Linked DNA regions of Homo sapiens. The protein of the gene in region 3 binds, or shares a complex with, the protein of the main gene of each other region. Each region holds a gene or a part of one and is shown on either strand. Other genes may lie near its edges. The genes, in order: TMEM186, NDUFAF1, ECSIT and ACAD9.

Region 1 (8,574 bases), on a different chromosome or scaffold from region 3:
GTGGTTGCCAAGGGCTGGAAAAAGAAGGAAATTATTGCTCAATGGGTATATTAGTTCTGTTTGGGATAATGAAAATGTTCTGGAAATAGATGGTGGTGACGGTTGTACAACATTTTTTGTTTTGTTTGTTTTTGAGATAGTCTGGCTGTCTCCCAGGCTGGAGTGCATTGGTGCAATCTCGGCTCACTGCAACCTCTGCCTCCCGGGTTCAAGCTTCTCAAGTAGCTGGGAATACAAGTGCCCACCACCATGCCCAGCTAATTTTTGTATTTTCAGTAGAGACAGGGTTTTGCCATGTTGGCCAGGCTGGTCTTGAACTCCTGACTTCAAGTGATCCACACGCCTCAGCCTCCCAAAGTGCTGGGATTACAGGCATGAGACAGTGTGCCCAGCCTGTACAACATTGTTAATATACTTAATGTCCCTGAATTGCACACTTAAAAATGATTAAAAGGATAAATTTGTTAGGTGTATCTTGGTATGGTTAAGAAAAATGGAAGGCTACACAATAAAAAAAAATATTTTTTTTTTGAGACGGAGTCTCACTCTGTCGCCCAGGCTGGAGTGCAGTGGCGTGATCTCGGCTCACTGCAAACTCCGCCTCCCAGGTTCACACCATTGTCCTGCCTCAGCCTCCCGAGTAGCTGGGACTACAGGCACCTGCCACCACGCCCAGCTAATTTTTTTGTATTTTTTAGTGGAGACACGGTTTCACCCTGTTAGCGAGGATGGCCTCGATCTCCTGACCTCGTGATCCGCCACCTTGACCTCCCAACGTGCTGGGATTACAGGTGTGAGCCACCGCCCCCAGCGATAAAACATTCTTATTGACTTTCGAGTGGCAAAATAATAAAGATCATGCCTTCCTTCCTCTTTACTGTGTTACAAATTGTATAATGAACATATATTATTAATTATGTGGGGCAATGTATATAACTGGCTTAAGTTTATAAAATAACGTACCAGCATCCGGTGCATTTGGCTTTATTACACTGCAGGGCCATCCAAAGCAAGAGCCTCTAGACCTCTGGGTGGTGAACAAATCTCAACTGGGGTTTCGTGCCTACCTGGACGACATCTGCTCGTCAATGTGTAGTTAACATCCTGACAGACCCTTCTGCCGCTGGATATGTGAGGGGCACAGCACAGGGCTCTGGAAGTCCCTGCTGACTGCTCGAAGCCTTTCTCCCTGCTAAAACCTCTGACCAAATGCTTAATAATATCTGCTGTAGGCTGTTGAGTCTGCCACACGTTTGACATTTATTGTTTATTCCCACACCCATCCCATGAAACAAGCAGGACTTTCCATTTTACAGATGTGAAAACCAAGATTCAAAGAGACTCAATAACCTGCTCCAGGACAAATGACAGAACTGAGACTTCTGACTCCAAATCTTACGCTCCCCCGCCACACCTCTTTGCCTTTCTCTTTCACACCAATGGACTCTATGGGTGACCTTGGCATAGGTTCTTCTAAGAACTGGCTCTTAACAAAAACTTCTGGCCATTATCTGACTGAATGTCACAAACAAGTGCTGTAAGAACTTGCTTAGAGCCTTTTTCCTAAACCTGTACACCAGCTCTTGCCTTGTGAATTTATTCACCACAAAACACATGTTCCCAGGGGCCCAGGCAAAGTCTCCAAGTACCCAGTCCCCTTTCTTCAGCCTTGCCCACACCCTCAGCCTTCCTGTTAATCCAGGCGACCCAGGGTTACCCAGAGGTCCAGGTCCCAGTTGTTCACTTGAGCATCTGATGTACCCCAAACACCTGTGTGAAACGCTCTCTGTCCAGGATGCGTCCATAGCGCAGGGTGACGTAGAAGGTCTGTTTCCCACTGTACCGCTGGATACGCACAAACATCTCCTGAGGCCGGTCCTTGGTTTCTGTCAGGGGAATCACATCTGCCATGGGACAGTATGTGTCCTGCCGCCAGCCCCAGAAGTTCAGATGGGCCACCCGCAGCATGGTGCCAGACTCATTCAGATACAGGATACCAACCAGTCTCCGTAAGAAATAGCTCATCCAGCACAGCATGGTCAGGGCAAAGCCCGATATCCCACTCATGAGGCACACGGTGTTGAGAGTGAGGAGGCCCTGGGAGTACAAGTAATAGCCTGGTGGCAAAGCTACCACTGTCAGGGCAGTCTGTGCCAACTTCAGTCGTGACAGGAACCCGAAGGTTCTGATGGCATCAAAACGGTAAAACATCCAGAATTTCTCAGTCTCTGCGTTTGGTAGTTTCTCCTTCGAGATGGGTGAACTGCTGCCCACCCACCTCTTAGGATCCTCCTGCCCACTGCAGCACCACAGCCCATGGAGAGGCCTTTCCCACACAGCTTTTCCCCGAAACCTACGCACAGCTCGGAGAAGGGCAGCCTGAAAGGGAGACAGTAGACCATTTCTCTCATGGAACTCAACCACATTAATCACACGGTGAACATCTGCAAAGCACCATACTCTAAGGCTTCTGCCAATCCTGCAAGGTAACCGTTATTGCCAGACGAGGGAAGGGTAAAGCCAGATGCTATCTCATGTGGGCATCACAACAGCTATCTAAGATAGTTATCACTATTTCCACTTTACCACTAGGGAAACTAAGCCCAGAGAGGGTAAGATATTTACCAAAGATCACACAGTCAGTGAGTGCAGCAGAGTCCTCCTTCCACCAGGCAATTCCAAATAAATACAGGAAAGGAGGTGCGGCCGTCATTAATTCAAAACATATCCAGGGAGGACAAACTCTGGGCTGGACAATGTATCCACAAGGGGGTGTGAACATTTCCCCAAGCAGGAAACTAAATAATCAGTGTCTTAGTGGGGAACTCGAGCAACAAATCTGTGAGATATTTATTCCAATAAACTTTCTAATTCTCTGTTTGATTCATATGCTATCTTGGGTGCTGGAGGGAACTGCTGCTTTCTCTTAGCCTAGTCTGGGGAAGGGGAAACAGCGGAGAAGGAGAAGGAGCGAGGCAGGGAGGCCCCAACACGTAGCACAAGGGTATTACTAGGTGGGTAGTGAAGCAGTAAAAGCTCTTATTCCAATTCTGGCTCCAACAGTAATTTGTGAGCAAATTACTCCACACCCCTGAGATTCGGTTTCTTCGCCTTTCAAAATGGGGACTCAGAACACAGTGAACCAGAGGATGGTTTCAGAGTCCTCAACTTAGTACCTAATGCACTGTGAGAGCTCGGCGAGTTTTAGCTACTACTACTGTGCGCATGTGACCCAAGGAGGGCAAGAGAAAGCCCGGGAAAAGCGAACTGTAACACACGCCAGAGCTTCCTCCCACGGATCCTCGGAGTCCGAAACCCGAGCGTCGGGCCTGCCCGCCCCAGCCCTGACCCCGACCCCAAAGAGCATCACCCCCTCAAGGCTCGCCACCCGCCTCCTTACCATGGCCCCACCACCTGCTGCCGGAAGTAAATCCCACCGGCCCCCGGAACCCCTAAGAGCGCATGCTCGAATGTACAAGGCGGGCGTGATCTGCGTTGCACCCTGGGAGTTGCGGTCCAGGAATCGTGGCTGCCGCTACTCCCAGGCGTTATGGGAACGGAGTCCCCTCCTCTTCCCGACGTGCCCTGCGACTCAGCGGCCGAACCCGGAAGTTCCGGGCCGAGTTCCTCGTGCCAACGTGTCTTGTAAGGTGCGGCTAGAAACTGGGGACATGGCAGCGCCTGGCCCAGCGCTCTGCCTCTTCGACGTGGATGGGACCCTCACCGCCCCGCGGCAGGTAAGTGGCGGCCGGCGGGCTGCTGGCAGCCGACGCGGAGCCCGTGCTGTTCCCAGTTGGGGCTATCGACCACCCAGGGTAGGCGCCAAGGGGTGGCTAAGGACCGCCTACGTCCTCACGGCGCTGAACCCTATTCTGGGTGCACTGGAGGAATGAGAGGGAGGCCCTAACCAGCTCTTGAAGAGCTCTGGTGCTTGGAAAGATGAGACGGGGCTGAAGAACTCTTAAGAGCAGGAAACTTGTGCTAGGTTGGAAAATGTAATCTGGACTCACCGCTAGTGCTCGGGACTGATAGACCAGGATTTCAACCCAAGATCAGGCCCCCTTATCAGCTATGTGTCGGCCCCAATCCTGTAACCAATGGGCTGTGCCGTGAGTCATGATATTAAAAACAGGTTTCCAGGTCAAACCGACCTAGTGGAGTCTCATCTTCACCTCTTGACATCTGTGTGACCTTCAGCGAGTCATTAACCTCTCTGAGCCTCAACATCTACAGCTTTAAATGGGGATGTTACCTGTTCCATATGGTGTCTGTGAGGATCAAATGAGATTGTGTAAGTTCTTGAAAGTATGTTGGACACAACACACTAGGCCTCAGTAAATAGTAGCCACCTCCACCACACCCATCTCCAGCCCCTGCAATGGACTAGGGAGATGGAGGAGCCCTAGGTTATTACAGGCTGCCCGCTGAGAGCCTCTTTGGGCCCTTGGAAACTTGCTTTCCACTTTCAGATTTTGCTGCTACAGGCACAGATAAGTTTCAGTTACGATCAGCCTTGAGGTGAGGCTCTCCTGGCCCCTTTTCAGAAATTGGCCACTGAACACTGGCCATTTCAACTTGAGACTGGACCCCAATGGTCTCACTATCCTCAGCTTCTACCCTCACCCCTCATAGTTTTCGCTTGGTGGTAACAATGGTGTGCTCCAGAAGTCCAGGTCAAATGCGTGTGACCTTAGACGTATCATTTTGCCCTTCTCAGCCACAGGTTTGATTTACCTAGTGATGACGCTCAACTCCCAAGTTCTTCAAAGGCTTTTTCTGATTCTGAAATTCAGTGATCACACACTTGGGTTTGTTAAAAGCCCATAGTGGTCTAAAACTCCGGTCCCCAATTCATTTTTTGTAAAGGGCCATATAGCAAATACTTCTCTGTCTTTGCTGACTATGTGGTCTATAGTAACCACTCAACTTTAGTGCAAAACCAGCCATAAACCCTATATAAATAAGAGTGGCTGTGTACCAATAAAATTTTATTTATTTATTACAAAAACAAACAGCTGCCCAATGTGGTCTGTGGGCCATAGTGGTCTAGGGTTTACATTGCCACCCTTTTTCATATCACTGAACCCTCTCAACCTTCCTCCATCTTTCTTCCCAGGTAGGATAGTTGTTATTACCGTTTTAAACATAAGGAAACACACTCAGTGAAGAACTAACCTCCTCAGTTTCACACAGCCAACCTGGTACAAGTCTCTGGGCCTCAGGATATTGGTTCCTGTCAAGTTTGCCATTTCCTATCTGTGCTAAGGTGGAAGCTGTTCTAGTCACTGGGTATGCCATTCAGGAAAGTGCTTCTGATTTTCTGATTTTCACAGTTCTGACTCTTTTTTTTTTTTTAAGACAGAGTCTCACTCTGTCACCAGACTGGAGTGTAGTGGCCCAATCTCAGTTCACTGCAACCTCCACCTCCCAGGTTCAAGCAATTCTCCTGCCTCAGGCAACCAAGTAGCTGGTGCTACAGGCAGGCACCACCACGCCTGGCTAATTTTTGTATTTTTAGTAGAGATGGGGTTTCACTGTGTTGGCCAGGATGGTCTCTATCTCTGGACCTCGTGATCCACCCGCCTCGGCCTCCCAAAGTGCTGGGATTACAGGCGTGAGCCACCGTGTTCTGACTTTTAAAGGCCACTCCTCCAATTCTAGATTCTGTCTAATAGGTCCAGATTCCACTGTGAGAGTAGAAAAGATTGCACTCTATTACAAACCCTTCTGTACAATTTTAATCACATTCATGTATTACTCTAAAAAAGTTTTTTAAAGAAAAATCATTGAACTCCAAGTGTTTATATACTGAGGTTGAATTAAATGGTTTTTTGTATTTTCTAAATTTCTAGTAAAAAGATATTCAGCCGGGCACGGTAGTTCATGCCTATAATCCCAGCACTTGGGGAGGCTGAGGCGGGTGGATCACTTGAGGTCAGGAGTTCGAGACCAGCCTTGCCAACATGGTGAAACCCAGTCTCTACTAAAAATACAAAAAGATTAGCCGAGCATGATGGCGGGCGCCTGTAATCCTGGCTACCTGGGAGGCTGAGACAGGAGAATCGCTTGAACCCAGGAAGTGGAGGTTGCAATGAGCCGAGACCACACCATTGCACTCCAGCCTGGGTGACAGAGCACGACTTCGTGTCAAAAAAAAAAAAAAAAAGACATTCAGTGTAAATGTACAACTGAGATTGCTCAAAGTGCTGAGTTATAAGACTTGTAAAAATACATTGTGATGTGTCTTAATGTAGGGCTATTTTTTCATCTTAGTTTATAACTTTTTTAAAATTATCACACAGTTTGGAATTTACCATAAGATTATACCACTAAGACCACTCTTTCTAGATAGGAGCTTTGCTTTTAGAAGAGACTAAAAAATCTAGTTATCTTACTCTTTTACATTTTTGTTTTGTTTTGGGTGATTGCAATAAAATCAATTCTAAGCTTCTCCTTTTTTTTTTTTTTTTGTTTTGTTTTGTTTTGTTTTGAGACGAAGTCTCGCTCTGTGACCCAGGCTGGAGTGCAGTGGCACGATCTTGGCTCACTGCAACCTCTGACTCCCGGGTTCAAGTGATTCTCCTGCCTCAGCCTCCCGAGTAGCTGGGACTACAGGCGCCCACCAGCGCGCCCGCCTAATTTTTGTATTTTTAATAGAGACAGGGTTTCGCCACGTTGGCCAGGCTGATCTCGAACTCTGACCTCAGGTGATCCACCCGCCTCGGCCTCCTAAAGTGCCGGGATTACAGGCATGAGCCTCCATGTCTGGCCCTAAGCTTCCTCTTTAATTTCATTATGTTGTTTTATTTTAAAATCAACAACTTAAATCCATAAATGGAGTATAGTGTAGCATTTAAAAGGAATGATGAGCTAGATCTGTGTTGGCATGAAAAGATCACCACAGCATAGTGCTGAAAAACCAAAGTCCCTGCACAGGACATGATTCCATTTATGTTTCAAAAATAAGACCTATTTGTATATGTGCCCATAGATGGGTATATAAATGCATAGAAAAATAGCTGGGACAGTGCACAACAGCTACTAACATATTACCTGTGTTTAAAATTTGGTAAAAATAACACTTAAGTTTATTCTGGTAAAGATGCCCCCCCAGTTACAACTAAAATATTTGAACTATGTACAGAGCTGGTAACTTAATTGGCATGTATGAAAATAAGGCTTATAGACCTGGCTTATACCTGTAATCTCAGCACTTTGGGAGGCCAAGGCTGGTGGATCTCCTGAACCCAGGAGTTCCAGACTGGCCTGGGCAACATGGCAAAACTTAGTCTCTACAAAATATAAAAAAATTAGCCAGGTGTGCTGGCACATAACTATGGTCCCAGCTACTCAGGAGGCAGAGATAGGAGGATCACCGGAGTCCAGGGAGGTCGAGGCTGCGATGAGCTATGACCATGCCACTGCACTCCAGCTTGGGTGACAAGTGAGACCCTATCTCAAAAAAAAATTTTTTCTTTAATTTTTAAATAAGAAAATAAGACTTATGTACTTGTGTTACCCTTAGAGTTTTGGTCTCCTGATTATTGTGTGGCTTATGACTGTTGTATTTTCTTTCTTGAAATTTAGAAAATTACCAAAGAAATGGATGACTTCCTACAAAAATTGAGGCAGAAGATCAAAATCGGAGTGGTAGGCGGATCGGACTTTGAGAAAGTGCAGGAGCAACTGGGAAATGATGGTAAATGATGGGTTGCTAATTACATCTGGTAAAAGATTAACTTCTTATGAGGATATTGTTGCCAAGTATCATAGGCTGCCCTAAAACCTTGTCCCCATATGGCGGGCTTTCTGCTTCCTTTTTTGGGAAACATTTTCTTGGCCTTTGCTTTTCCTCTGCTTTTAATCCAGTACATTTCTGGAGTTACTGATGGAGAACTGGGTACTCAGATGTGTGAGTAGATTCACCTAGAAAGGTCAGTGGCTGTATCTGCACATGATAATCTCTCTGCCTGGAATACTTCTTGCTTGTACCCGTTGACAGCCCTTCTAGCCCCAGTCAGACCGGTCTTCATATTGTCCCTCTGACAGCCCCCCTCACCTCCCCATCACTGAAACAGAATCTCCAGCACAGGACCCCGAAAAACCAGAGAGGCTTATTGACCCCTTCACTGGAGAGTCTGACTTGATAGGTCTGTGGAGCCTGGGAATCCTATTTCAGTGAGTACCTCTGAGAGATTCTAGTGTACAACCTTGCTAATGTAGCATTCTGTAATTATTGTAAACTATCCGATTATATGTTTTTGAAGAGCAGGAGTATGGGTTATTCATCTCCATAGCCACAGGGCCTCCTGGCCTGTAAGAAATTGTAAGTGGATGCCAGGCGCGGTGGCTCACGCTTATAATCCCAGCACTTGGGGAGGCCGAGGCGGATGGATCACCTGAGGTCAGGAGTTTGAGACCAGCCTGGCCGACATGATCAAACCCCATTTCTACTAAAACTACAAAAAATGAGCTGGGCGTGATGACGGGCACCTGTAATCCCAGCTACTCAGGAGGCCGAGGCAGGAGAATTGCTTGAACCCAGGAGGCAGAGGTTGCAATGAGCCGAGATCA
Region 2 (7,897 bases), on a different chromosome or scaffold from region 3:
CTAATTTTTTGTATTTTTAGTAGACACAAGATTTCACCATGTAGACCAGGCTGGTCTCAAACTCCTGACCTCAAGTGATCTGCCCATCTCAGCCTCCCAAAGTGCTGGGATTAAAAGCATGAGCCACCTAGCCCAGCCTGGACTTTATTCGAATTGTAATGGGAAACCACTGAAGGGTCCTGATATGGTTTGGCTGTCTCCCCACCCAAAATCTCATCTTGAATTGTAGTAATCCCCATGTGTCAAGGGAGGGACCAGGTGAAGTTAACTGAACCATGGGTGTGGTTTCCCCCATACTGTTCTAGTGACAGTGAGTTCTCACAAGATCTGATGGTTTTATAAGGAGATTACCCCTTCATTCGGCTCTCATTCTCTTTCCTGCCACCATGTGAAGGAGGATGTGTTTACTTCCCCTTCTGCCATGATTTTATAAGTTACCTAAGGCCTCCCCAGCCCTGCAGAACTGTGAGTCAATTAAACCTCTTTCCTTTATTAATTACCTAGTCTCAGGTATTTCTTCATAGCAGCAGCACGAGAACAGACTAATACAGCTTACATGCTTAGGAGGTACATTTACATGCTTACAAGCATGTAAATGATGTCATCTGAACTATGCTTCAGAAAGATAACTCTGGCTGCTGTGGAGCCAGGATTTTAGTGGGGCAAGAAGACAAACAGGGAAATCAATAATGAAGCTGCTGCAATAATCCAAACACCTGGACCAGGGTGGGAGTAGAAGAGATGGCTAGAAATGGTCAGCTGCTGAGTGTATTTTGGAAGCAGAGGTGACAGGACTCGCTAATAGACTGGATGTGGGGCAAAGGAGAAGAATTCAGGATGACCCTCAAGTATATGACATGAGCAAAATGGGGACTTTCTTGTTGAGTTTTTTTTTTTTTTTTTTTTTGAGACGGAGTCTTGCTCTGTTGCCCAGGCTGGAGTGCAGTGGCACGGTCTCAGCTTACTGCAACCTCCACCTCCCAAGTTCAAGCAATCCTCCTGCCTCAGCCCCCCTAGTAGCTGGGATTACAGGCACACACCACCATGCCCGGCTAATTTTTTTTTTTTTTTTTTTTTTTTTGAGACGAAGTCTCCCGCCCAGCCTGGAGTGCAGTGGCACGATCTGCAAGCTCTGCCTCCCGGGTTCACGCCATTCTCCTGCCTCAGCCTCCTGAGTAGCTGGGACTACAGGCACCTGCCACCAAGCCCGGCTAATTTTTTTTGTATTTTTTTAGTAGAGACGGGGTTTCACTGTGTTAGCCAGAATGGTCTCCATCATCTCCTGACCTCGTGATCCACCCGCCTCAGCCTCCCAAAGTGCTGGGATTACAGGCGTAAGCCACCGCGGCCGGCCTTTTTTTTTTTGAGATGGAGTCTCACTCTGTCGCCAGGCTGGAGAGCAGTGGCCCATCTCGGCTCACTGCCACCTCTGCCTCCCAGGTTCAAGCGATTCTCCTGCCTCAGCCTTCTGAGTAGCTGGGACGACGCCACCACACCCAACTAATTTTTTTATTTTTAGTAGAGACAGAGTTTCACCATGTTGGCCAGGATGGTCTCGATCTCTTGACCTCGTGATCTGCCCACCTCGGCCTCCCAAAGTGCTGGGATTACAGGCATGAGCCACCGCGCCTGGCCTCTAATTCTTGTATTTTTAGTAGAGATGGGGTTTTGCCATGTTAGCCAGGCTGGTCTCAAACTCCTGATCTCAGGTGATTTACCCACCTTGGCCTCCCAAAGTGCTGGGATTACAGACATGAGCCACCACGCCTGGCCTAGGACACTACTTTTTTTTTTTTTTTTTTTTTTTTTTGAGACAAAGTTTGGCTCTTGTTGCCCAGGCTGGAGTGCAATGACACGATCTCGGCTCACCGAAACCTCCGCCTCCTGGGTTCAAGCAATTATCCTGCCTTAGCCTCCCGAGTAGCTGGGATTACAGGCATGCGCCACCACGCCCAGCTAATTTTGTATTTTTTTTAGTAGAGACAACAGGGTTTCTCCATGTTGGTCAGGCTGGTGTCGAACTCCCAACCTCAAGTGATCCGTCCGCCTTGGCCTCCCAAAGTGCTGGGATTACAGGTGTGAGCCACCACGCAGGCCTAGGACACCAACTTTAGCAGAGTTGCCTGGAAGACATGAAATGGCAGAAACTTCTAAAAAACAAACAAACCCCATCTATTTGGACACAGAGCAGAGATGTGCCTGTGACTTAGCATGGACCTGGCCACATCCATATCAAAAATATTCACTAGTTAGTATGTTAACATTTATATTAATGAAACAAAATTCATTTATGTCTCTTAACCTTTCTTCTACCCACCCACCCCCACCTTCCAAGAAAGATTAGTAACAAAAAAGAAACTACAATGTAACAATCATCTCCAAGACTTTTTTTTTTTTTTTTTTTTTTTTTTGAGACAGAGTCTCATCTCACTCTGTTGCCCAGGCTGGAGTACAATGGCACGATCAGAGACTAGGTTTCACCATGTTGGCCAACCTGGTCTCGAACTCCTGACCTCAGGTGATCCACCCACCTCGGCCTCCCAAATTGCTGGGATTATAGGCGTGAGCCACCTCACCCAGCCAAGACCTCATTTTTATAAACAATGAAGATTTATGCTGTTACCTTGACCTCCTGCCAGTAGGGTCCCCCGCGGGTGAACATGAAGTAACTATACATCTGATTCGTCCTCTGGAAGAAATCTGTGTCCTCCTTGATATTCACCATCCAAGGCCGACCATCCCCACGTACACGGAGATACAGAGTATTGAACTGGGACCAATCGTAAGACATCTTCCTCTCAAAAGCACCCTAAGATATTGAAAGTAAAGTTCATTGTACCTCATTCTCCATTATTAGCAAAATGTGAGTCATCACCAAGTCAGCATCATCAACAGGATGCACTAACCATTTTTCTGACTTTCTGCCCCATAAGAAGGCACATAAACCCAGTGATTATTATTTTAGCACAAAATACTGACATAGTTATATGTTTCTAAGGTAATGTTCAACACACAACTGGCCCAGGACAGTGTTTACATGGGGTAGGCACTCACCTGTGTTCAATGAATGGAAATGAATGTATTTCCTTTACCTGGTCGTATGGAGCAATGACTTTTTCTTTTCTTTTCTTTTCTTTTCTTTTTTTTTTTTTGAGACGGAGTCTTGCTCTGTCACCCAGGCTGGAGTGCAGTGGTGCAATCTCAGCTCACTGCAAGCTCTGCCTCCTGGGTTCACACCATTCTCCTGCCTCAGCCTCCCGAATAGCTGGTACTATAGGCGCCCAAAACCACACCCGGCTAATTTTTTTGTATTTTTAGTAGAGACGGGGTTTCACCGTGTTAGCCAGGATGGTCTCGATCTCCTGACCTGGTGATCCGCCCACCTTGGCCACCCAAAGTGTGGGGATTACAGGCATGAGCCACTGCGCCCGGCCTTTTTTTTTTTTTTTTTTTTTTGAGACAAAGTTTCGCTCTTGTTGCCCAGACTGGAGTGCAATGGCACGATCTCAGCTCACTGCAACCTCTGCCTCCAGAGTTCAAGCAATTCTCCTGCCTCAGCCTCCCAAGTACCTGGAATTACAGGCATGCACCACCATGTCCAGCACTCTGGGAGGCCAAGGGTGGGGTGGATCACCTGAGGTCAGGAGTTCAAGACCAGCCTGGCCAACATGGTGAAACCCTGTCTCTACTAAAAATACAAAAATTAGCTGGGCGTGGTGGTGTGCACCAGTAGTCCCAGCTACTCAGGAGGCTGAGGCAGGAGAATCGCTTGAACCTGGAGGGCGGAAGTTGCAGTGAGCCGAGATCACGCCACTGCACTCTAGCCTGGGCGACAGAGCAAGACTCCGTTTCAAAAAAAAAAAAAGAAAGCCACAGGCTAACCCTACATCCACTCTACAAAACCCCTGGTCATTACAGAGGTTGTGGTCTTTTTTAGAGGAGATGAAAATCTCTCCAAAAATCTTTCAAATGTCTAACCTCTCAGGATTCCTGAAACATAACAATGCTCGTTCCTGGCCCAAAGCAATGCGCAGAAACAAGTTAACTCCTCCTCCTCAGAAACCACTTCCCCCTTGTGCTTCCACTTCACACTTGTGCCAATAGTTACTTATCCCCAGACACAGGTGAGGTGCCAAATATAACATGCCAGGTGTTTTCATTTACAGAAACAAAAGCTATCTTCTATAGTTTATGCTACAATGAAGTTCACCCCTGTTTACTAGAAAACGATGGCTCCTGGGCCTCACCTACCCTTGGAATCCTGGATATCATTGCACAGTACCCACTTCGGGTAGACTCCCCGTCCTGAGGCGCCTCAGAGCTCAGAGTTCCATATAGCAGTGCACTTTGGTTATTCTTGCCCATTTTCAAAAACACTTCACTTCTGCCTCCAATCGTCTTATCAGAAGTCACTGTCCACTTATCCAAATCTTCTTTCCCCCGGAATTGCCAGACAACCTTGGCTTGTTCCAGCAAGACCTCATGCAGAGGGTGGCCTTCCGGTCCTCTCCAATGATCCACAATTTCATCCTTCAAAAGCCTAAAATGGTATATTGCTTCATCTCTAATTGCTTTATCGAAACTAACATCAGGCTTCTCCTCAGAAGAAGTTATATCCAAAGCAACTTCTTTCTGGTGATCTCCTTGCAAATCCCCTTCAGTCTTCCTCTGTGAGGAGGCTTTGCCAGGAGAAGCCACTGGTTTCTGAAGACTACTGGAATACTCTGCAAAGCGAATACCCAAAAATGGATACAAGGCAGAAGTTGGCTTAGAGAATTTTCTGAGAAAATAAGTACCACGCAGCAATTTGTGAACCAAAGCCATGGTACAAAAAAATCAAAATGTAAGTTTCTTCCTGGGCTAGCAAGGGCCACCAAGAAGCTTCAGCAAATAGCCCAATTCTACCTATAACAGAAGAGACATTGAAGAATTATCAGCATAGCAATGAATGCATCACAATTTCAAATTCAACAGAAATCAGGTATTTTGAAGTTTGTTAACTTATTTGTTTACTATTATTATTATTATTATTTGAGACAAGGTCTTGCTCTGTGGCCCAGGCTGGGTACAGTGGCACAATCACAGCTCACTGTAGCCTCTACTTTCTGGGCTCAAATGATCCTCCCATCTCAGCCACCCAAGTAGCTGGGATTACAAGCACACACCACCATGCCCAGCTAATTTTTAAATTTTTTGTAGAAATGGATCTCCCTGGCCAGGCACGGTCCCAGCACTTTGGGAGGCTGAGGTGGGTGGATCACGAGGTCAAGAGATAGAGACTGGGCCGGGCGCGGTGGCTGACGCCTGTAATCCCAGCACTTGGGGAGGCCGAGGCGGGTGGATCACGAGGTCAGGAAATCGAGACCATCCTGGCTAACACGGTGAAACCCCGTCTCTACTAAAAATACAAAAAATTAGCCGGGTGTGGTGGCGGGCGCCTGTAGTCCCAGCTACTGGGGAGGCTGAAGCAGGAGAATAGCGTCAACCCAGGAGGCAGAGCTTGCAGTGAGCGGAGATCCCGCCACTACACTCCAGCCTGGGCGACAGAGCGAGACTCTGTCTCGGGAAAAAAAAAAAAAAAAAAATTGAGACCATCCTGGCCAACATGGTGAAACCCCGTCTCTACTAAAAATACAAAACTTAGCTGGGTGTGGTGGTGCGCACTTGTGGTCCCAGCTACTAAGGAGGCTGAGGCAAAAGAATTCCTTGAACCTGGGAGGAGGAGGCTGCAGTGAGCCAAGATCGTGCCACTGCACTCCAGCCTGGCAACAGAGCGAGACTCTGTCTCAAAAAAAAAAAAAAAAAAAAACAGAAAGAAAGAAAAAGAAATAGATCTCCCTGTGTTGCCCATGATGGTTTTGAACTCCTAGGATCCAGTGATTCTCCCCTCGGCTTCCCAAAGTGCTGGGCTGTAGGAATGATGCACTGTCCCCGGCCTTTTTTTTTTCTTTTCTTTTTATAAGAGACTGGGTCAGGCCAGGTGTGGTAGCTCACGCCTGTAATCTCAACACTTTGGGAGGCCGAGGCGGATGGATCACCTGAGGTAAGGAGTTCGAGACCAGCCTTGACAACATGGTGAAACCCCATCTCTACTAAAAATAATCCAGGCGTGGTGGCAGACGCCTGTAATCCCAGCTACTAGGGAGCCTTAAGCAGGAGAATCACTTGAACCCAGGAGGCAGGGATTGCAGTGAGCCGAGATCACGCCACTGCACTCCAGCCTGGACAAGAGCAAAATTCCATGTGAAAAAAAAAAAAAAAGAGACAGGGTCTCTTGCTCTGTCACCCAGGCTGCAGCGCCGTGGCAAGATCGATAACTCATTGTAGCCTTGAACTCCTGGGCCCTGGACTGAAATGATTCTCCCACCTCAGCCTCCAAGGTAGCTGAGACTACAGGTGCACACCACCATGCCCAGCTAATTTTTTTAAAAAATGTTGGCCGGGTGCCGTGCATCACACCTGTAATCCCAGCACTTTGGGAGTCCAAGGTGGACGGATCACTTGAGGTCAGGAGTTCAAGACCAGCCTGGCCAAAATGGTAAAACCCCATCTCTACTAAAAATACAGAAATTAGTTGGTCATGTTGGAGAGCGCCTGTAATCCCAGCTACTGGGGAGGCTGAGGCAGGAGAATCACTTGAACCCAGGAGGCGGAGGTTGCAAGTGAGCCGAGATTGCACCACTGCACTCCAGCCTGGGTGACAAAAGTGAAATTCCATCTCAAAAAAAATAAAAAAACCAAAAATTGTAGCCCGCCACAGTGGCTCACACCTGTAATCCCAGCACTCTGGGAGTCTTAGGCAGGCAAATGACTTGTCGTCAGGAGTTGGAGACCAGCCTGCCCAACATGGTAAAACCCCGTCTCCATTAAAAATACAAAAATTGGCCTGGCACGGTGGCTCATGCCTGTAATCCCAACACTTCGGGAGGCCAGGGCAGGCGGATCACCTAGGACAGGAGTTCAAGACCAGCCTAACCAACATGGTGAAACCCCTACAGAAAATACAAACAATTAGCCAGGTGTGGTGGCCCATGCCTGTAATCCCAGCTACTTGGGAGGCCTAGGCATAAGAATCGCTTGAACCCAGGAGGCAGACGTTGCAGTGAGCCGAGATCGTGCCATTGCACTCCAGCCTGGGCGACAGAGTGACTCCAACTAAAAAAAAAAAAAAATTAGCTGGGCATGGTGGTGGGCACCTGTAATCCCAGCTACTCGGGAGGCTGAGGCAGGAGAATCGCTTGAACCTGGGAGGCAGAGGCTGCAATGAGCCAAGACTGCACCATCGCACTCCAGCCTGGGCAACAAAAGTGAAACTCTGTCTCAAAAAAAAAAATACAGGCCGGGCGCGGTGGCTCACGCCTGTAATCCCAGCACTTTGGGAGGCGGAGGCGGGCGGATCACGAGGTCAGGAGATCGAGACCATCCCGGCTAAAACGGTGAAACCCCGTCTCTACTAAAAAAATACAAAAAATTAGCCGGGCGTAGTGGCGGGCGCCTGTAGTCCCAGCTACTCGGGAGGCTGAGGCAGGAGAATGGCGTGAACCCGGGAGGCGGAGCTTGCAGTGAGCCGAGATCCCGCCACTGCACTCCAGCCTGGGCGACAGAGCGAGACTCCTTCTCAAAAAAAAAAAAAAAAAAAAAAAAAATACAAAAATTAGCTGGGTGTGGTGACGGGCACCTATAGGGTGGTGGCAAGCACCTATAATCCCAGCTACTCGGGAGGCTGAAGCAGGAAAATCGCTTGAACCCAGGAGTGGGACGCTGCAGTGAGCCAAGATCAAGCCACTGCACTCCAGCTTGGGCAACAGAGCAGGACTCTGTCTAAAAAATAAATAAATAAAAATAAAAAATTGTAAGGCCAGGCGCAGTGGCTCACGCCTGTAATCCCAGCACTTTG
Region 3 (8,314 bases):
CCCTGACTCAAAACAAAAAAACAAAAACAAAAACAAAAAAACTACAGCTACTTAAAGTGTGTTCTAGGGACTGGCAGTGTCAGCAACATTTGGAAGTTTATTAGAATAGCAAAATTTGGCCGGGCATGGTGACTCACGTGTGTAATCCCAGCACGTTGGGAGGTCCAGGCCAGCTGATCACCTGAGGTCGGGAGTTCGAGACCAGCCTGACCAACATGGAGAAACCCTGTCTCTACTAACAAAAAAAAAAAAAAAAAAATACAAAATTAGCCGGGTGTGGTGTATGCTTGTAATTCCAGCTACTTGGGAGGCTGAGGCAGGAGAATTGCTTGAACCTGGGAGGCAGAGCTTGTAGTGAGCCAAGAGCACACCATTGCACTCCAGCCTGGGCAACAAGAGCGAAACTCCATCTCAAAAAAAAAGCAAAATCTCGGCCCTATCCCAGACCTACTGAACTGGAATCTGCATTTTTTTTTTTCCCAGGCGGAGTCTTGCTCTGTCGCCCAGGCTGGAGTGCAGTGGTGCAATCTTGGCTCACTGCAACCTCCGTATCCTGGGTTCAAGCAATTATCCTGCCTCAGCCTCCCGAGTAGCTGGGATTACAGGCACATGCCACCATGCCTGGCTAATTTTTGCGTTCTTAGTACAGACAGGGTTTCACCATCTTGTCCAGACTGGTCTTGAACTCCTGACCTTGTGATCCACCTGCCTTGGCCTCCCAAAGTGCTGGGATTACAGGCATGAGCCACTGCGCCAGGCCCAAATCTGCATTTTAGCGAGTCCCTGGTATCTCCTGTGAGCATTAAAGTTTGAGAAGTGGTGATCTGTGTGCTGATGGCTCCCCAATGTTCACCTCAATCCCTGGGCCCCAGCCTTTATACCTAACTGCCACTTTGGCATATACCCAGCCATCTCAAACATAATTTGCTCCAAACTGATATCCTTGCTTAAACTTGATCCTCTCCATCCTATCCAATCGCACCACTACTACTGGCCATTCAGGCTACAAACCTAGGAGACATTTCTGAGTCCACTATGTCCCTCACTCTCCTATTCAATCCATCAACTAGTCTAGGTGACTACTTCCAAATCCATCCCAAATGCATCTCTTTCTATCTGAAGCCACCACCTCAATCTATGACTTGGATACCTATCAAGCCTCCCACTTTTGCCCTTCCTGCCTCCAGTCAGTTCTCCCCACTATGGCCAGAGGGAGCTTTTTTTTTTTTTTTTTGGAGACAGAGTCTCACTCTGTTCCCCAGGCTGGAGTGCAATGGCGCATCTCGGCTCACTGCAACCTCCGCCTCCCCAGTTCAAGTTGGTTCTCATGCCTCAGCCTCCCGAGTAGCTGGGACTACAGGTGTGTGCCACCACACCCAGCTAATTTTTTGTATTTTAGTAGAGATGGGGTTTCATCATGTTGCTCAGGGTGGTCTCGAACTCCTGAGTTCAAGCAATCCACCCATCTTGGCCTCCCAAAGTGCTAGGATTACAGGTGTGAGCCACCACACCCAGCCAGAGGGAGCTTTTAAACTAAAATTAGGCCAGGCGCTGTGGCTCACGCCTGTAATCCCAGCACTTTGGGAGGCTGAAGCAGGTGGATCACAAGGTCAGTTCAAGACCAGCCTGGCCGAGATGGTGAAAGCCCGTCTGTACTAAAAATACAAAAATTAGCCAGGTGTGGTGGCAGGCACCTGTAATCCCAGCTATTCGGGAGCCTGAGGCAGGAGAATCACTTGAACCTGGGAGGTGGAGGTTGCAATGAGCCAAGATTGTGCCACTGCACCCCAGTCTGGGCGACAGAGCGAGATTCCATCGCTAAATAAATAAATAAATCAACTAAAATTAGTGATTTCTGCCTAAAATCGCTAACGGCATATCACACTTAAAATCAGAGACTGGGCACACTGGCTCATGCCTGTAATCCCAACACTTTGGGAGACCAAGGTAGGAGGATCACTTGAGCCCAGGGATTCAAGACCAGCCTGGGCAACATAGAGAGACCCCATCTCTACAAAAAAATTAAGAATTATCCAGGCATGGTGGTGAATGCCTGTCATCTCAGGTACTCAGGAGACTGAGGCTGGAGGATCCTTTAAGGTCAGTAGTTAGAGGTTGCAGTGAACCATGACTGCACTTGTGAATAGCCACTGCACTCTAGCCTGGGCAACATACTGAGATCCTGTCTCTAAAAATAAATAAATAGCCAGGGAGCAGTGGCTCATGCCTATAATCCTAGTGCTTTGGAAGTCCAAGTGGGGAGGATCGCTTGAGCCCAGGAGTTCAAGACCAGCCTGGACAACATAGCAGGACACGATCTTTACAAAAATTATTTTAAAAAATTAGCTGGACCTGGTGGTGTGCACCTGTAGTTCCAGCTACTGGGAAAGCTGAGGCAGGAGAATCACTTGAGCCATGGAGTTTGAGGCTGCAGTGAGCTATGGAGTGCACTGCACCACTGCACTCCAGGCTTGACGAACAAGTGAGATCCTGTCTCTAAAAAATAAAAATAAATAAATAAAATCAGATAGGGTCTACCCCTCTAAACTCAACTCCTACCACTGGCAGCTTCAGCTACACTGTTTCTGAAAGAAACTAAGTTTATCCCATCTCAGAACCTTTGTACTTGCTTTTCTCTCTGTCTAGAGCTTTCTTCCTCCAGATCTGCCCACAGCTGTCTCTGGTCATTTCAATGAAAGGTCTTCTTTGACCATCTCCCATTCCCCACATTCTAAAAGCCCTCATCACCCTATTAATTTTTGTTTCGGAGACAGGGTCCTGCTCTGTTGCCCAGGCTGGGGTGCAGTGGCACAATCACGGCTCACTACAGCCTCAACCTCCTGGGCTCAAGCAATCCTCCCACCTCAGCTTCCCGAGTAGCTAGGACTACAGGCGTGCACCACTACGCCCAGATAATTTTTTGTAGAGAACAGGGTCTTGCTATGTTGCCAAGGCTGGTCTCGAAACTCCTGGGCTCAAGCGAAATTCCCGACACCATTAACGCATTTTTAGTAACTTATCAGTATCTGAAATCACCTGTTTCGTTTATTTCTAATTTGTTCAAAGTCTGGTTCCCCCAGGAGATGAGAGATTTTTATCTATCTTCCTCATTGCTGTGTCTCCAGCACCAAGGACAGTGCCTGGTATATGACAGATGCCTAACGAGTAACAACTGAACGGAAACAAGCCTCAATTTCAAAAAAACACCTATAAATCTGAACCCCGAGGTATGGTGTACGTACAACAGCTTTGAAACCGGCTGCCAGGATTCTGGGTCTCTTGGGGGAAAAAGGCAGACGCGGATTCCAAATCCTGCCCGGTTGCCGACTTGCGGCGTGACCTCTCGCGAGGTCATCTGCAAAATGGGAGACTGGGGGCGTGAGGCGGCTGGCACAAGACAGGCGGCCTTTCCCAGCGCGTCCCCGCCCCCACTACGAAAGGTCATGGCGCCCTGGCCCTGCAGCTGGGTCCCTCCAGGGCTGCCCTCTCGCGCTGCCGGGTCCTGAAGGGCCCGCCTGCAGCCCAGCAGTTCGCGTTCGCCTACCCGCGCGCGACCTACCTACTCACGCGGCCAGCCGCGGACTCCAGGCCAGCTCTGTCTTGTTGCTGGGCGCTGCCATATTGGCCCAGAGAGCGTCCGGGTCAGGGAGCTCCAGGGAGGTAGCAAATCAAGAAAGCTGGTGTAATAGGTCCCGCCCACAACGCGAGGTGGGCCAATAGGAAGGCGGAAGGATCTGGGACCCGCCTCATAACGAGCCAGGCCCAGCCTCTAATGAGGCAAGACGCACTCCAGACCTGGGAACCTTGAAATGGCCCGGGAGGCTGGACTTGGGAGTCATAGTCTATGAATCCAGTCGCAGGCCCCAGCGGCTGAAATGAGAAAATGAATTAAAAAAAAACAAAAAGTGAAAGGGGGCCGGTACGGTGGCTCATGCCTGTAATCCCAGCACTTTGGGAGGCCAGAAGTTCGAGACCAGCCTGGGCAACATAGCGAGACCCCCTTATCTACAAAAAATTTAAAAATTAACTGGGCATGATGGCGCATGCTCATAGTCCCAGCTATTCGGGAGGCTGAAACGGGAGGATCGCTTGAGCCCTGGAGGTCGAGGCTACAGCGAGCCATGATTGCACCCCTGCACTCCAGCCTGGGCAACAGAGTGAGACCCTGTTTCTAAAAATAGTAATAATAAATAAATAGGGCAGGGCGCGGTGGCTCACGCCTGTAATCCCAACACTTTGGGAGGCCGAGGCCTGCGGATCACCTGAGGTCAGGAGTTCGAGACCAGCCTGGCCAACATGATGAAACCCCGTCTCTACTAAAAATACAAAGTTAGCAGGGCATGGTGGTGGGTGCCTGTAATCCCAGCTTCTCGGGAGGTTGAGGCAGGAGAATCGCTTGAACCCGGGAGACGGAGGTTGCAGTGAGCCAGGATAACACCACTGCACTCCAGCCTCAGCAACAGAGCGAGACTCTGTCTCAAAAAATAAATAAATAAATAAAAATTAGTGGGGCGTGGTGGCGTGCTCCTGTGATCCCAGCTACTCGGGAGGCTGAGGCACGAGAATTGCTTGAACCCAGGAGGTGGAGGTTGCAGCGAGCCGATATAGCACCACTGCACTCCAGCCTGGGCGACAGAGTGAGACTCCGTCTCAGTAAATAAATAAATAGGAAGGCCTCAGTGAGGTGTCCTTTGAGTAAAGGCCGGAGGAAGTGAGTGAGCCATCTGGATATCTGGGGAACGCTTTTGGCACTGGGAACAACAGCAAAGACTCTGTGTGGTCGGAGTGGAGTCTTTGGAGGAAATGGGATAAAACGAGGTGAGATTGAGTAATGGGGGCTCCTGGTCTCCCCCAGAAAGCACCAGATTTAGGCTGTTAATAACTAAGGTGGATAAGCACATAAAATGGGCTATTGGCAATAACAGTGTCCCCCGGGAAGGAAGGCTATCTGCCCTCATAAGCCCATTTCTGCAGTCCCTCAGCCTCTGTGGCGCAGTGAGCTGGCATGGAGACTAGGATGCAAGAACCTACCCTTAGGATGCCTCAAGGACTCTGCGCAGCCGCAGGACATCCACCTCATCAGAACTCTTGTGATTGGGCAATCTGAGAAAACCTGTAGCCAATCAGCTGCTTGGCTGGAGCACTCCTCTCTGGCAAGTTGACAGGCACGTGGGCAGCGGCTGGGAGCGCTACTGCCCTCTGCCAGGCTCCCGCAGCTACAAGCAAGCAGAGTCAGCTCTGCTTAGCTGGGGAGTGGGTAAGATGATGGGGTCGCTGACCTGGCTGTGGCCTTCAGAGTTATTGGTGTCCTTCTCTTGAGGTGGTCATGGCTTTTGTTTTCTTATTTATCCTTCCAGAACTAGTCTTTTAATATTTTATTTTATTTTATTTTATTTTATTTTTGGAGACGGAGTCTGGCTCTGTCGCCCAGGTTGCAGTGCAGTGGTGCAATCTCAGCTAATTGCAACCTCCGCTTCCCACATTCAAGCAATTCTCCTGCCTCAGCCTCCCGAGTAGCTGGGACTACAGGCGCATGCCACCATACCCGGCTAATTTTTGTATTTTTAGTAGAGATGGAGTTTCACCATGTTGCCTAGGCTGGTCTCCAACTCCTGGGCTCAAGCAGTCCTCCCGCTTCAGCCTCCCAAAGTGTCAGAATTACAGGCATTAGCCACCGTGCCCAGTCATTATTATTATTTATTTATTTATTTATTTTTTGAGACAGAGTCTTGCTCTGTCGCCCAGGCTGGAGTGCAGTGGCACGATCTCGGCTCACTGCAAACTCCGCCTCCTGGGCTCACGCCATTCTCCTGCCTCAGCCTCCCCAGTTGCTGGGACTGCAGGCGCCCGCCACCATGCCCAGCTAATTTTTTTGTATTTTTAGTAGAGACGGGGTTTCACTGTGTTCTCCAGGATGGTCTGATCTCCTGACCCCGTGATCTGCCAGCCTCGGCCTCCCAAAATGCTGGGATTACAGGCATGAGCCACCATGCCCGGCCTATTATTATTATTTTAAAATAGAGATGGGATCTTAATATGTTACCAAGGCTTGTCTCAAACTCCTGGGGTACTGCGATCCACCCATCTTGGCCTCCTAAAGTGCTGGGATTATAGGCATGTGCCACCACACCAGGCCAGTAGTCTTTTAAAAACAAGTAGGTACAGGCCGTGCGCGGTGGCTCACGCCTGTAATCCCACCACTTTGGGAAGCCGAGGCGGGTGGATCACGAGGTCAGGAGATCAAGACCATCCAGCCTAACAAGGTGAAATCCAGTCTCTACTAAAAAAAATACAAAAAATTAGCCAGGCGTGGTGGTGGGCGCCTGTAGTCCCAGCTACTCGGGAGGCTGAGGCAGGAGAATGGTGTGAACCCGGGAGGCGGAGCTTGCAGTGAGCCGAGACTGCACCACTGCACTCCAGCCTGGGCGACAGAGCAAGACTCCATCTCAAAAAAACAAACAGACAAACAACAACAAAAAAACCAAGAATGTACATATTTTATGTACTGTATGTATTAACACAGAACACCATATGTGAGGCCCTGGTGCAGAATCTTTAACATTACAGTCCCAGAAAGAACCCTATAAAAAGTAGTAGCTTCACAGTGAAAGATCCTAGCAGACACCACCTTAACCAAGGGACCAACATTTATATCACCAGCAATGAGTCATGGTGATATCATGAAGCCCTTGGTATGACACACTTAGAAGGATACATCATCACCTCTCTGGTATTCTTCCTGGTAATGCAAACACCTCAGTTTATTCAAGACAAACCAAACTCGAAGACAGTCTACAAAATAACTGACCAGCACTCTTCAAAAGTGTCAAGGTCCTGAAAGACCCAGGGACTATTATAGACTGTAGGAATGTATGGAGATATGACAATTAAATGCAATGAGGGCCAGGCACAGTGGCACTGTAGTTCTAGCTATTTAGGAGGCTGAGGCAGGAGGATCACTTGAACCCAGGAGTTCAAGTCCAGCCTGGGCATCATAGTGAGACCTCATCTCTAAGATAGATAGATAGATAGATAGATAGATAGATAGATAGACAGACAGACAGACAGACAGACAGACAGACAGAAAGAAAGAAACGCAATGGGCCGGATGCGGTGGCTCACACCTGTAATCCCAGCACTTTGGGAGGCCGAGGCAGACAGATCACAAGGTCAGGAGTTCAAGACCAGCCTGACCAACATGGTGAAACCCCCTGCCTCAGCCTCCCATGTAGCTGGGATTATAGGCTCCCACCATTACGCCCAGCTAATTTTTGTAGTTTTTGTAGAGATGGGGTTTTACCATGTTGGCCAGGGTGGTCTTGAACTCCTGACCTCAGGTGATTCACCCGCCTCAGCCTCCCAAAGTGTTGGGATTACAGGCGTGAGTCACTGCACCCAGCTGGAGTCCCCACTCTTAACCACAGCGCTACAGTGTCTTCATTTAGTTGAAACAACATGCTATATGTTTTAACTTCAACTTTGTCTATCTCCCTTGTCCCAGGTTGATGGGATTTATAGTGATTTATTATGACAAGGCCACTGCAATAAATGTTCCTGTACATATGTCATTCTTCACACCTACACTTGTACTTCTGAGGAATATTCTAAAATAGAGGATATACTTGTTCAGAAGGTAAGGACATTTGTCATTTGGGAAACTATCAACAAATTGCCCACACTCATCAACAATGTTCCCACAGCCTCCTCTGCGTTACATGTTGTCAAGCATTCTTTTATTTATTTATTTATTTATTTATTTATTTATTTATTTTTTTGAGACAGAGTCTCGCTCTGTCGCCCAGGCTGGAATGCAGTGGCACGATCTCAGCTCACTGCAAGCTCTGCCCCACAGCTTGACGCCATTCTCCTGCCTCAGCCTCCCAAGTAGCTGGGACTACAGGCGCCCGCCACCACGCCCGGCTAATTTTTTGTATTTTTAGTAGAGACAGGGTTTCACCATGTTGGCCAGGATGGTCTCGATCTCCTGACCTCGTGATCCGCCTGCCTTGGCCTCCCAAAGTGCTGGGATTACAGGCGTGAGCCACCACACCCGGCCGTCAAGCATTCTTTTCTTTTCTTATTTATTTATTTTTCACCCAAACTAAAATGCAATGGCATGGCTGGACACAGTGGCTCATGCCTGTAATCCCAGCACTTTGGGAGGCCAAGGCAAGCAGATTACCTGAGGTCAGTAGTTCGAGACCAGTCTGGCCAACATGGTGAAACCCCATCTCTACTAAAAATACAAAAATTAGCCCGGTATGGTGGTGGGCACCTGTAATCCCAGCTACTCAGGAGGCTGAGGCAGGATAAT
Region 4 (3,892 bases), on a different chromosome or scaffold from region 3:
TGCCTGAAGAGACCTGCTCTCTGTGGGCATGTCCCAGGCCCACAGTTACTGCTGTGGCTCTCAAGGAGGCTCCAGCTAGGAGAGCTGTCTAGCCTAAGAACACAAGGCTTTTCCTTGGTAAGAAGGCTTCCTAGTGAGCTCCACTGCCAGCCTTCCCAGCAAAAGTCTCCTGGGGGTTTCACTGGTGAAATCACTTAAGAAACACTTGCTGGGGTCTCCTCTTCCCACAACATGTTTAAGAAAAGTTAGCAACTACAGATGAGAGGGAGAGGCTTGAACTGGTCGCTAGGCCTTTTCAACCCAGATGGATGAATGGAGAACTTGCCATTCTCCATTGGCATGTAAGACTGAGGCCTTACACGCCACCAGCCTAGAGTGAAGCCCCCTTCCAGAAGGCTGCACAGAAGGGGGGTGGGTCTGACAGCCCCTCCCCAAACTTCTCCTGTGCAAAGAAACTCTAAGCAGCCTTCTGTCCAGAGGTATGCATGCTTCATTTTGTGCAAAATGCTGCCCTGCTATCACTAACAGAACTTCAGGTTTCACTGAGAGGTTATTTACACGGTCACAATATTTACAAACTTTCCCCATTTTAAAAACTAGTTACCAAACCCCTGGCAGAATGCTCAGGCCAGCCCCACTCAGCCAGCTCAGCTCTCCAAGTTCCCAGTCTCCTCCTTGCCTATTTCCAGCATCACAGTAAATTGGGAATATACTTGGAGGAAAAAGAGTCGGCTGCCTTCTCTGTGCTCAAGGGAGTGTCCACAATAGGCATTTTAGAGCTCCAGACCACCCAAGGACCACATCAAAGCTTAAAGTTCACCACAGTGAGCACGCTGGGACCTGGTGTAATCTTTCAAGTGCCAGCAGAAGGGAGGCTGGAGAAATGCAAAGGCCTGCTGGCCTGGAGATACCATTCATCCTCTCCTCAAGAGTAGAAGCCAGTTCTTGTAAAGAAACTAAAGTCCCTAGGTGGGAACATCATCAGCTGAGACAGCCTCCCCATCATCTCCTGAGAAGGATAAAAACTAAGGGCTCATAACCCCAAGGGATTGTGGCCTGCACTGTGTGTCTGCTCCTTAGCATTCTGGGCCCTCCTTGCAGGGTGAGGACAAAGGGGACCCGAGGCCATCACCAAAGGGTGGTTCTCAGGGTCCTGCTGTCACCCATTAAAGGCTGGTTCTAAGGAACAGTGTGACAAGTACAGCAAAGGCTAACAGTACACAGATTGTGACATTTTATATTCTTTGTTAAATGGTTCCTGGTACATGTTTTAAGTGCCTCTGCTTCTAGTTTAAATGAATGACCCAGACAGAGCTTTCAAGCTGTTTCTTAGAGAATGTGTGGTTGAGCAGAAATGGCTATCCACACCTGACACAGGTCCCCACCCACCTCACACCCTGGAGGCAGCAGCATAAGCCCCAGTTTCCACTATGGTGTCTCCTCAATGACCAGAATACCCGCCAGTTCCAGGGGTCAGCAATTCCATTCTCTCTCTCCGGCTCAGTTCAGAAGCTGTGATGGTCCTGTTAGAGAGCACTGCCTGCAGGTCAAAACCTGGAAGAGGCTCTCCCAGGCCAGGCGACAACCCTTCAGGTGCAGACGGGGAACAAAAGGCTTAACCTGTGATAATCCCAACACCTTCTGAAAAAAGAGTAACAGTCATCCAGCAACGGGCCATGGGTAGGGGCGGGCGGTAGCAGGGGACACTGTCCCCTGCCTCAGCATGTCCTGTCCAGAGGGTGGGCACAGATATAGGCTCGCTTCTCAAGGATCTGCTGGGACACTTTCTTAATCTGCTCATCTAGGTTTTCTGGAGCATCTGGGAAGGAAAAGGAGAGATGGTGGGTGATCTTTCTGCACCGTGATAAGACAAACATGGCTGAAGTGGGGGCATTTTTCCACAAAGTCAGCCCACCCACCATGAAGCAGCCCTAAGGGTGAACCCCTCCTCCAGACCCCCAGCAAGTGATTCAGGGCTGCAGGGAGAGAAAGGGGTACAGCTTCATTCTCAGTTACAAAGGACTCATCCTGCTCATCTCTAACCCCCAGATCTCATGGGGTGGAGCCGGCACTTGCTCCGTAAACAGCCCATCTGTGATTCCAGCCCACTGGAGGAGAAACCATTTCAGCACCCTCCACAGCACATAACCTGTCAGCACTGGGGGGGTGTCTGGGCTACCCCCAGGGCTAGGACCTGCAAAAAATCATATGCCACTCTCAGCAAGTGCCACAGTGCTGGCGCCTACACCCATCACTTGGCAACACGACTGGGCTTTGTGGGGACACTGATCCAGAACCTCAGGTCAACAGGACTGTGAGGGTCAGAGGTAGACTGAGCTGGGCATTCCTAGATATGGTCGAGTGGCTATAGAAGAGGAAGAGCACTGCAGACAGAGCGGGGAGCACGAGCAAAGCCCTCTGTTCTCTAGGCCAAGGCCTGAGACCTCTGCAGGGCACTGCAGGGTCATTTTGGATGGAGTACAGTGGGTAAAGGGGCAGGTAAAATGCTGTCTCCAGAATCAGGTACAACCAGATGCTCCTCCCTTCGTGAGCCTTCCCCGGGCAGCTTCAAGAATACAGCCAGGGCTGGGCACAGTGGCTCATGCCTGTAATCCCAGCACTTTGGGAGGCCAAGGTGGGCGGATCACCTGAGGTCAGGGGTTGGAGACCAGCTTGGCCAACATGGTGAAACCCTGTTTGTTTCTACTAAAAATACAAATATTAGCTGGGCATGGTGGTGCGTGCCTATAATCCCAACTACTCAGGAGGCTGAGGCACAGGAGTTGCTTGAACCCAGGAGGTGGAGGTTGCAGTGAGCCAAGATCATGCCACTGCACTCCAGCCAGCCTGGGTGACAAAGTGAGACTATGTCTCCAAAAAAAAGAGAATACAGCCAGGCATGCTGGGCAGATGCCAGGGGTCCTGCGCAAAGGGCTCTGCACTTGCTCAATCTAAAATTGCCTTGGCAGGCCCGGTGCGGTGGCTCATGCCTGTAATCCCAGCATTTTTGGAGGCTGAGGCAGGCAGATCACCTGAGGTCAGGAGTTGGAGACCAGCCTGGCTAACATGGTGAAACCCTGTTTCTACTAAAAATACAAAAAATTAGCCGGGCGTGGTGGCGTGCGCCTGTAATCCCAGCTACTCGGGAGGCTGGGGCAGAAGAATCGCTTGAACCCAAGAGGTGGAGTTTGCAGGGAGCCAAGACTGCGCCATTACACTCCAGCTTGGGCAACAAGAGCGAAACTCCATCTCGAAATAAATACATACATACATACATACACACACACACATATATACATACAACTGCCTTGGTGAATGGGGCAGGTATGCACCTACAGTGCCTGGTGGGCACTGCTGCAGCTAAGCCCAGGCCTACCCAGGCCCTCGCTCAAGGCAGAGGTCTGTGAGTAGCTAGCAGGCTCTGGGAGCTTGACAGGGTCCAGAAACAGCTCACCATCAATAGGGGCCTAGAAGTGGGCCCTTCCTTCCCTCCCCCAAGACATGCCACTCACACTTGTCCAGCTGAGAGAGGCTGAAGAGATTCTGCAAGTAAGCTTCCACGCAGAAGGTGTTGGCCAAGAGAACCTGCCAGAACCGAGGACAGAAAAGATATGCCCAAATTCCTGGAATCAGACCTCTGAGCTTCAAAAACCCAGCCTATCAGCCAAACTGGGTAGCATGGCAGGGGTCACAAGGCCTGGCACAGGAGTCACCCCGTCTTGGGTTCTAATTCCAGCCCTGATCCAACAGCCTTTCCCCAACAGCAAGTGACTCAACATCTCTGACCCTGTTTCCTCTGAAAGGCAGATGTCACAATCCTGGTATCTGCAGGTGCTCTGGAAAGTGCAGGCAGAGATCCTGGTATACAGTGGGTCCTCAGAGACTGCACCCG

Evidence for each region.
Region 1: ECSIT (region 3) and TMEM186 share a complex: the UniProt entries of both Homo sapiens proteins name them as parts of the mitochondrial complex.
Region 2: ECSIT (region 3) and NDUFAF1 share a complex: the UniProt entries of both Homo sapiens proteins name them as parts of the mitochondrial complex.
Region 4: the proteins of ECSIT (region 3) and ACAD9 are in contact, whole or in part, in a cryo-EM structure (PDB 8PHE), measured with the Homo sapiens proteins. Residues at the interface, in NP_057665.2 of Homo sapiens: Pro321, Glu322, Glu323, Trp324, Asn325, Leu326, Tyr327, Tyr328, Pro329, Met330, Leu332, Asp333, Leu334; in NP_054768.2 of Homo sapiens: Leu180, Thr181, Asp188, Ala189, Ala190, Ser191, Ile192, Lys228, Lys239, Asp240, Lys241, Ile242, Phe293, Ala296, Met297, Leu300, Ile431, Met434, Tyr435, Leu438, Thr439, Leu441, Gln442, Gly445, Thr449, Leu516, Gly520, Lys521, Ile523, Met524.

The regions. Positions count from the first base shown.
Region 1 is NC_000016.10:8,794,212-8,802,785, forward strand, and holds TMEM186 (transmembrane protein 186), read right to left. Parts: upstream 3,429-8,574; 5' UTR 3,404-3,428; coding exon 3,401-3,403; intron 2,380-3,400; coding exon 1,741-2,379; 3' UTR 969-1,740; downstream 1-968. Other genes in the region: PMM2 (phosphomannomutase 2), read left to right, coding at 3,672-3,737, 7,588-7,699. UniProt on the Homo sapiens protein: As part of the MCIA complex, required for efficient assembly of the mitochondrial complex I.
Region 2 is NC_000015.10:41,392,236-41,400,132, forward strand, and holds part of NDUFAF1 (complex I intermediate-associated protein 30, mitochondrial precursor), read right to left. Parts: intron 4,906-7,897; 5' UTR 4,825-4,905; coding exon 4,252-4,824; intron 2,810-4,251; coding exon 2,624-2,809; intron 2,124-2,623; exon of another isoform or gene 1,870-2,123; intron 1-1,869. UniProt on the Homo sapiens protein: As part of the MCIA complex, involved in the assembly of the mitochondrial complex I.
Region 3 is NC_000019.10:11,525,503-11,533,816, forward strand, and holds the start of ECSIT (evolutionarily conserved signaling intermediate in Toll pathway, mitochondrial isoform 1 precursor), read right to left. Parts: upstream 3,633-8,314; 5' UTR 3,560-3,632; intron 3,364-3,559; exon of another isoform or gene 3,243-3,363; intron 1-3,242.
Region 4 is NC_000003.12:128,910,434-128,914,325, reverse strand, and holds the end of ACAD9 (complex I assembly factor ACAD9, mitochondrial), read right to left. Parts: intron 3,586-3,892; coding exon 3,513-3,585; intron 1,820-3,512; coding exon 1,719-1,819; 3' UTR 1,212-1,718; downstream 1-1,211. UniProt on the Homo sapiens protein: As part of the MCIA complex, primarily participates in the assembly of the mitochondrial complex I and therefore plays a role in oxidative phosphorylation.